2 linked regions of the Homo sapiens genome follow. The protein of the gene in region 2 interacts with the protein of the main gene of each other region in a pairwise test. Each region holds a gene or a part of one and is shown on either strand. Other genes may lie near its edges.

Evidence for each region.
Region 1: the proteins of NPTN (region 2) and AGTR1 interact in a two-hybrid assay, tested with the Homo sapiens proteins (one large-scale study listed by BioGRID and IntAct).

What each region holds. Positions count from the first base shown.
Region 1 is NC_000003.12:148,739,110-148,742,931, reverse strand, and holds part of AGTR1 (type-1 angiotensin II receptor), read right to left. Parts: intron 3,133-3,822; exon of another isoform or gene 2,976-3,132; intron 1,944-2,975; 5' UTR 1,897-1,943; coding exon 817-1,896; 3' UTR 1-816. UniProt on the Homo sapiens protein: Receptor for angiotensin II, a vasoconstricting peptide, which acts as a key regulator of blood pressure and sodium retention by the kidney.
Region 2 is NC_000015.10:73,563,620-73,567,441, forward strand, and holds part of NPTN (neuroplastin isoform b precursor), read right to left. Parts: exon of another isoform or gene 3,319-3,822; intron 167-3,318; exon of another isoform or gene 1-166. UniProt on the Homo sapiens protein: Probable homophilic and heterophilic cell adhesion molecule involved in long term potentiation at hippocampal excitatory synapses through activation of p38MAPK. May also regulate neurite outgrowth by activating the FGFR1 signaling pathway.

The sequences.
Region 1 (3,822 bases), on a different chromosome or scaffold from region 2:
GATATAGATATACATATACATATATGTGTAGAATATATACTTTTTTTAAACAGGAAGGCATACTTTATGATATATAATCTTTTTACCACAAACTATATACACTTCTCAGATATTAAATCAAACTAATATACTAGGAAGACACTACTACTTGGGACCAGTGCAGCACCTTTACAAGTAGTTTAACTTTTATATGTGACTTTAGTAACACCATTATACAAATAAGCCATCTTACGGGCATTGTTTTGGCAGTGGAAACCTATAAGACACAGGTTGAATTTCACAAAAAGATCTGCAACTTGACGACTACTGCTTAGCATATCTTTGTACAAAATGTGCAGTACCAGGTGCAAGTGTAGCACAGTTGCTAATAGCTGAAAACCGGCACGAAAACTTTACTGCCCTTTGGAAACTGGACAGAACAATCTGGAACTCTCATCTCCTGTTGCTCCTCTAACGATTTAATATATTCTAAATACCTTTATGTGGAAATAAAAAATAACAGGACAAAAGCAGGCTAGGGAGATTGCATTTCTGTCAGTAAAATTTCTCAAATCAACACATTCATCGAGTTTCTGACATTGTTCTTCGAGCAGCCGTCATCTGTCTAATGCAAAATGTGGCTTTGCTTTGTCTTGTTGCAAAAGGAAAGAAAAGCTTTTGTTCAGAGCTTTAGAAAAGTCGGTTCAGTCCACATAATGCATTTTCTCCTTCAATTCTGAAAAGTAGCTAATGCTCATTTGGTAGTGAAGTGCTGCAGAGGAATGTTCTCTTGCTCCTTCTTTCACAAAATTACTTTATGGACAGGTTTCGAACATGTCACTCAACCTCAAAACATGGTGCAGGCTTCTTGGTGGATGAGCTTACATTATCTGAGGGGCGGTAGGAAAGCGTGCTCATTTTTGTTGAAAGGTTTGAGTGGGATTTGGCTTTTGGGGGAATATATTTTAGAAGCTGGAGAAAATATCTTTTAAATTTTTTCCCCAGAAAGCCATAAAAAAGAGGATTCAGGCAATTGTTAAAATAAGCTATACAAATGGTGATAGGCATGGCCGTGTCCACAATATCTGCAATTCTACAGTCACGTATGATGCCTAGTTGAATCAATACATCCAGAAAAGTGAATATTTGGTGGGGAATCCAGGAAAAGAAAAAGAAAAGCACAATTGCCATAATTATCTTAAAAATATCATCATTTCTTGGTTTGTTCTTCTGAATTTCATAAGCCTTCTTTAGGGCCTTCCAAATAAGAGTATAACTTGTAAGAATGATCAGAAAAGGAAACAGGAAACCCAGTATATTTTTGGTCAGGCCCAGCCCTATCGGGAGGGTTGAATTTTGGGACTCATAATGGAAAGCACAAACTGTAATATTGGTGTTCTCAATGAAAAATACATTTCGATGGATTATAGCTGGCAAACTGGCCAAGCCTGCCAGCAGCCAAATGATGATGCAGGTGACTTTGGCTACAAGCATTGTGCGTCGAAGGCGGGACTTCATTGGGTGAACAATAGCCAGGTATCGATCAATGCTGAGACACGTGAGTAGAAACACACTAGCGTACAGGTTGAAACTGACGCTGGCTGAAGCAATCTTACATAGGTAATTGCCAAAGGGCCAGCGGTATTCCATAGCTGTGTAGACAGCCCATAGTGGCAAAGTCAGTAAAAAGCATAAGTCAGCCAGTGCTAAATTCAAAAGAAAAACACTGGCCACAGTCTTCAGCTTCATATAAAAGTAAATGACTATCACCACCAAGCTGTTTCCAAATATTCCCACCACAAAGATGATACTGTATAAAGTAGGAATCATGACAAATATGTAATTATGCCTTCCAGCTTTGGGACAATCATCTTGGATTCTTTTAATACCATCTTCAGTAGAAGAGTTGAGAATCATTTTGATCACCTGGGTCGAATTTGTTGCAAACACTATATCAAATACACCTGGGGAAAATAAAAATAAAATGGTAAAGAAAAAATTCTTATTGTAAACAAACAAACTAACAAACATTCATTTCTCAGTCATAAACGTAGTAACTCAACTTTAGTCTTAGGAAAAAATACTGGATCATATTTCTTAAGGAAACACTGTGAACTGATAAAGCCTAAGAAAGCACACTTAAATTTTAGAACATAATTGCTTTTGTAGAAAATGGTATCATCCAGAGAAGTGAAATTGGGATTCTATGTGAATAAACCTATCTAGGTCCTTTTCCTTTTTTTCTATAAGTAAATCTTGGTTTCCAAATTGATTAAAAACATAACCTAAATCTTAGAAAATACTACTGAATTAAATTAGTTTTTCAGAAAGACTTGAAAGTTTTTCCTGAGGTAAGCAGGACCAATTCATTTATCATTAACCTCAGAAGTGTGACACATTCATATTCTTTAAACCATTTCTTTCCTCTCACAATCTTTACTTAGGTATAAAGATTATAAGTATTCTCCCTTAAGTGGTCAGGATAGCTGCCTTTAGGTGACTGACAAATTGGTCACTGTGGCAATTGATTTAAGAGGCGTAGGAGGTAGGGCTCGACTTTGAGGAATAGGATTTTTTCCATGGTTTTCCAGGCCTCTGCAGTCAGTAACTACTTACTCTTTAACTTCCAATTCAGTCTAGCAAAAGTGCATGAATCTTCTAACCTTCATACCTGCCAGCCATTTCTGAAGTTAACTCTGTGGTTAACCATTTGTGTAACAAAGATGTCAAATGAATAGGTTTGGCTAGGATTATCAAGAAAGCATGTCTTTACTGAGGGCTTGAGAAAGCAGCAGGTTTTTTAGAATTCTGGGGAGAATCAGATGCTCAAGAATGGGCTGCACAAAGCCATGCAAATATTTGCTCTGATTTTCTACATAATCAACAGTCAAGCTATTCATTTATGTGATTTAGAAAATCAACACATTCTGCCCTGGATAACAGTCCATCAGGAAGTCCCAGGAAGGAGGCTGAAGGTTCAGTGAGAGTGACATCACCGAATGTGGTACAGCCACACTCTGAGGTGAAGGTCAGCATTGGGCACAGGCCAGGACAGCTAGGTGGGCAGTGGTGCTGGGCACACAGATCCTATTGCTCTACCAGGAGCAGGTCCCCAGATGAACATGGCTGAGCATTCTCTTGCAATGGCATGCCCTGGGGAAAAAGAGGAGCAGAAATAAGACACCACTGCCATGCCAAGCATGGTTGTGCTTGGCATTCAGGAGAGCTGAACACATGTTCTTAGAGTAGTGTTCACTTTGGTGCAAAGGGATGCTGTGCAAGGGATACAACTCCAGTAGTCAGCTTTTAAGACATAACACATGTGAAGGAGTTCTTAAGTGGTCTCTTTGCCTTCCCTGAGTAAGTAAAGTTGTTCTCCCTATGTAAGTTTTTGGTTGCATGTCCTCATTATTGTTCCTTTTTGCATCCAGCTTATATAATGTACATCCTTTTCTTCTTTGACTCACCAGGACATTAGTATCCACAAACAGGTGTTATCTACCCTAAATGTCACATCTTTGGTGAAGCCTTCCCAACTTTTTTGAGCACTTTGACATTTTGGATGTAGGTTTGACACTTTTTTTTTTTTTTTCTGAGACAGAGTGTCACTGTATTGCCCAGGCTGGAGTGCAGTGGTGCGATCTTGGCTCACTGCGATCTCTACCTCCCAGGTTCAAGTGATTCTCATGCCTCAGCTTCCCTAGTAGCTGGGACTACCAGTGTGTACCATCATGCCCAGCTAATTTTTTTATTTTTAGTAGAGACGGGGTTTTGCCATGTTGGCCAGGCTGCTCTTGAACTCCTGACTTCGGGTGATCCACCCGCCTTGGCCTCCCAAAATGT
Region 2 (3,822 bases):
GTAAAATCCTGCTGTTTGTTTTCTTGTGGTGAATGCATGCAGTTTTGGCTCAATCCTGCAATGTGAATGGATGTGTACCATCTGTACATTTAGCCACACATCCTCACTTCCCCAAAGGGCACTCTGTTTTTCTTGCTGTTTTGTAATCTTTAGAAGAGTCTTTAGTCTGGAGAATGAGATTGAGAAGAGGCAATCACAATAGTTCAACCTAAATTGGGTCAGCCATGCTGGGCTATGCCAGCAACAAGTGTATGTATACCAGAGGATGTTCTGTGACACACCGAGGAAAGCTGAACAGTGGTGACATCCCTCTAGAAAAGACTTCAGAAAGACAGGCTCACTCCTGTGCCCTGGCCAAAACCAGAAGCCAAACCCAGGGGAGCCATGAGATAACTTTTTTAAAATCAAAAAGCTGACATTATATGAGTTTAAGCCTTCTTAAATTGATACTTTATGATTCTGATTTATAAGTCTTTCGTGTTTCAACTAAGTGCAACTTGATCCCCTTTAAGCAGAGATACACATTCACAGAGAGAGAATGTTTTAAAAAGACCCACAAGGGGAAGGGAACAAGTAAGTGCTCTTAGTTTGTTTTTATTATACAAAAGTCAGGTAAACTAAATGATTCAGAACAGTTTGATTTCACTGAAGGCTTCTAGAAAAATTCTCAGCAGGATTCCACAAGGGGGCTTGGTGCACATGAAGCAGTTATGGAGATTACAGTCTCAGTGTAGGCATCTGCAGGAGCACATGTCGGGAGTAATGTCTGTCAGAGGGAGACATTGCTCCACCTGTTCCTTCGAGGCAACGGAGAGGCAAAGCCACCGCCAGCACACACAGTGACTGGAGCAAAAAAGGATTTCAAAAAAAAGAACTAACCACAAACCAATGACTCATCAGCCAAAACAATAGGCTAGCGACACACTAGTGTCCACAGGAGTCCACTACTAACAACAGTATACACTATCAAACGGGTACAGAGAACAAACTAAGACTTAAGGACACCCAAGACATCTGTGTGCTGTGTATGCAGTGGAGAGATACAAAGACATACCAGGTACTAAGACACAAAAGCCCAGCCTAAATTCTCCCCTCACAACATCCTAATGCTCAGCATCCCGGCCAAGCCAGCTCAGCTACATGCTAGGAACTAAGCACTTTGGGGATTTAAATGAAAAGACATAGGAGCAAACTTGGAATACTTTTAGTGCTCTGGCTGTGCACTCGAAAATACAAAATTCTAATGCAAGAGAGCCGAATCAAGAATACACCAATCTACTCCCAAATTTAAAATAAAAAGCAGGGGAGGGAGAATCGCAATAGCCAGGCTAATCTTTTCAAAGCATGACACTGTAGGCACCAACCCAAGCACCTCACACCACGGGCTGTTTTTCCTTTTGGAGTGTGGGTATTCCCTGGTGTCTGATTAGTAATGTCACTTTCCAGCCCAACAAGCTGGTAACATGCAAAGGGTTGCATGGAGGTGTTTTAGCGACAGTGCCTCCGGCATAGCTGCCATGCCTGCAAGTGGGAGCAGTTGAGATTCACAAGGGGGCAAAATCCCAGGAGCCCTCTTCATCTGTCTCCCCAAATCCACTTTCACACTGACAAACAAAAGAGCCTCATGTCTCCCCACTCTCCTGGACTGAATCACTATCTGCAGCACCACTCTCCCCTACAGGTCAGACAAAAAAACGACTTGACCCCTAACAGGGAAGTCAGGGGAGAGGGAAAGAACAGAATTACAGAAAAAAGATACAGAAACCAAAGTAAATGAGGATTAAACAGCAAACTGAAATCCAAATTAGTTGTGAAAGTGAATGAAGTAAACTTGAAGAAAAGTGTTAACATTATGAACTGTGCATCGTATAGACTGAAGCGGAGATTAAACAAACTCCAAAAGCATGCATATCGCTCACTTACCACCATGTTTTAAGGGTTTGATGCAATTGAGGGGGGAAAAAAAAGAAGTCATAGTAACCGACAAATATCAACATACCCCAAACCCTCAGGCCAAAAGATAGCCAGCTTAAACAATGACTGTTCTCTCCACCTCAGTATTACAGCCACTGGCTAGATGAGAGGAAGAGGACTGGGGGGATAATGGAAACAAGATGCTTCTGGAATCCACCTTATGAGAGTGAAGTTACCGGTGGAACTGTAGCACACACTGATTTATCTGCGTGTTCCATCTTCCCAACCGAATGGACCACAGCCCTCACTCCCCCTATATCCGCCTCATCATCTAGAAGGGGTGCTCTGCAATGTCTAGTAAATAACGGATTGCCTAATACAATATCACCTCCAAAAAGATGGCTTTAAAGTCCGAATAATGAAGAGTTGACTCTCTGGTCAAAGGTCCTTTGTCACTGCATTCATCTCACTAGAAGGTTTTATGGTTTCTAAATCCACTTAAATTTTGCCTGACCTTAGCAGGTTAGCATTAAACCCAAGAGAGACTGAGTTACTTCCTATTTCCTTCCTTGTTTGGTCCTATTGCATTTTCTCCATGAGGTAACTTGTTATTGACCCAGATGGCCCCTAGTTAACAGACCAGACACCGAATGCATGTTTTAGGTGTCATTTTAAAAGTCACATTTCTTTTCCAATATCCCTAGTCTGTATAAAGCTTCATATGCTACCAAATGTTTTGACCAACGAATAGATTTTGGAACATTAGAACAGCTCTTCATTCTAAAGTGTCTAAAAGAGCTTGGATATATCAGAGCCACTAAAAATGGCCCCCCAAAAAACCTCAAATATCTTCTCCATCAGTAACTTAAAGAGAGTCCCTTTGACTTGCTTATAAAAAATTATCCCAAGGTAAAAACAGAAAGTTCTTTTTTGGTACCAGCACTTCTTTTCTTAAATCAGCTCCTGTTTTAATTTGCTGTCTGTGAGGTCACTAAAATATCCAGAAGAACTGCAGGCCTCAGCAACTAAGTGGGTTCACTCCCCATTCCTCCAGGGCCTGGGGAGGGGAGACTCAGGAGCACAGGCTGACTGCTCCTGGAGTGCAGTCCGCAGGACACCAACACAGAAGGTGCACCCAAGCAGGTGCCCAGCTGTGACATGGATGGAAGCCTAGAGGCTGCTAGCTTGACCTGGTCTTTTTAGAGAACTATCATTTAACATTTTCAGGGAATACAGTCAAGTGGTGAGTCAAGTGAACAAAACAAAGCTCTTATTTGACTCCATGATTCACTTGTTCCTGAAAATACTGAAGGTAAAGGTGATCTGTAGATTAGTCCACCTACAAGACAACCTAGTGGGCACTGATCCTCAAAGAGACCATACAGGGGACTAAAGGAATGCAGGTGGGTGTTTTCATGTAGGAAATGGTCTGAGAATACTCCAGTAGGTAAAGAAAAAAGACATGGGGCTTTTTTTTTTTTTTTTTTTTTAAAGGAAGCAGCTAAACCTCAATCCTAAGCATTTTCAATGTGAGAAATCTAAATATTTGATTTTCTAGTGAAACATACTTAAACTAAACTATGTAAGTTCAAATTTGTGCTTTTATACTTTTGTATTGTTCACTTAGTGCTTTTGTAGTAAGGGGATGAGTTACCAAGAACTCACAGACTGCCCAAAATATGACGACTGTGCATTCATATAAAAAAAGTTCAGTGAGTCTGAAATGAGCCATGGGTGTATCTTGATAATAAAGTGCTATTTGGCAAAGTAGAAGTATGGCAGGCCTATAAAAAAATTCCCATTTTCCTAATGGTATAAAAAAAATCCAACACAGAGCCACAGATGGTTATCTGATAGGTAAACACTTATGACCTCTTAACACTCCCAAGTTTGTGTCAAATATAATGT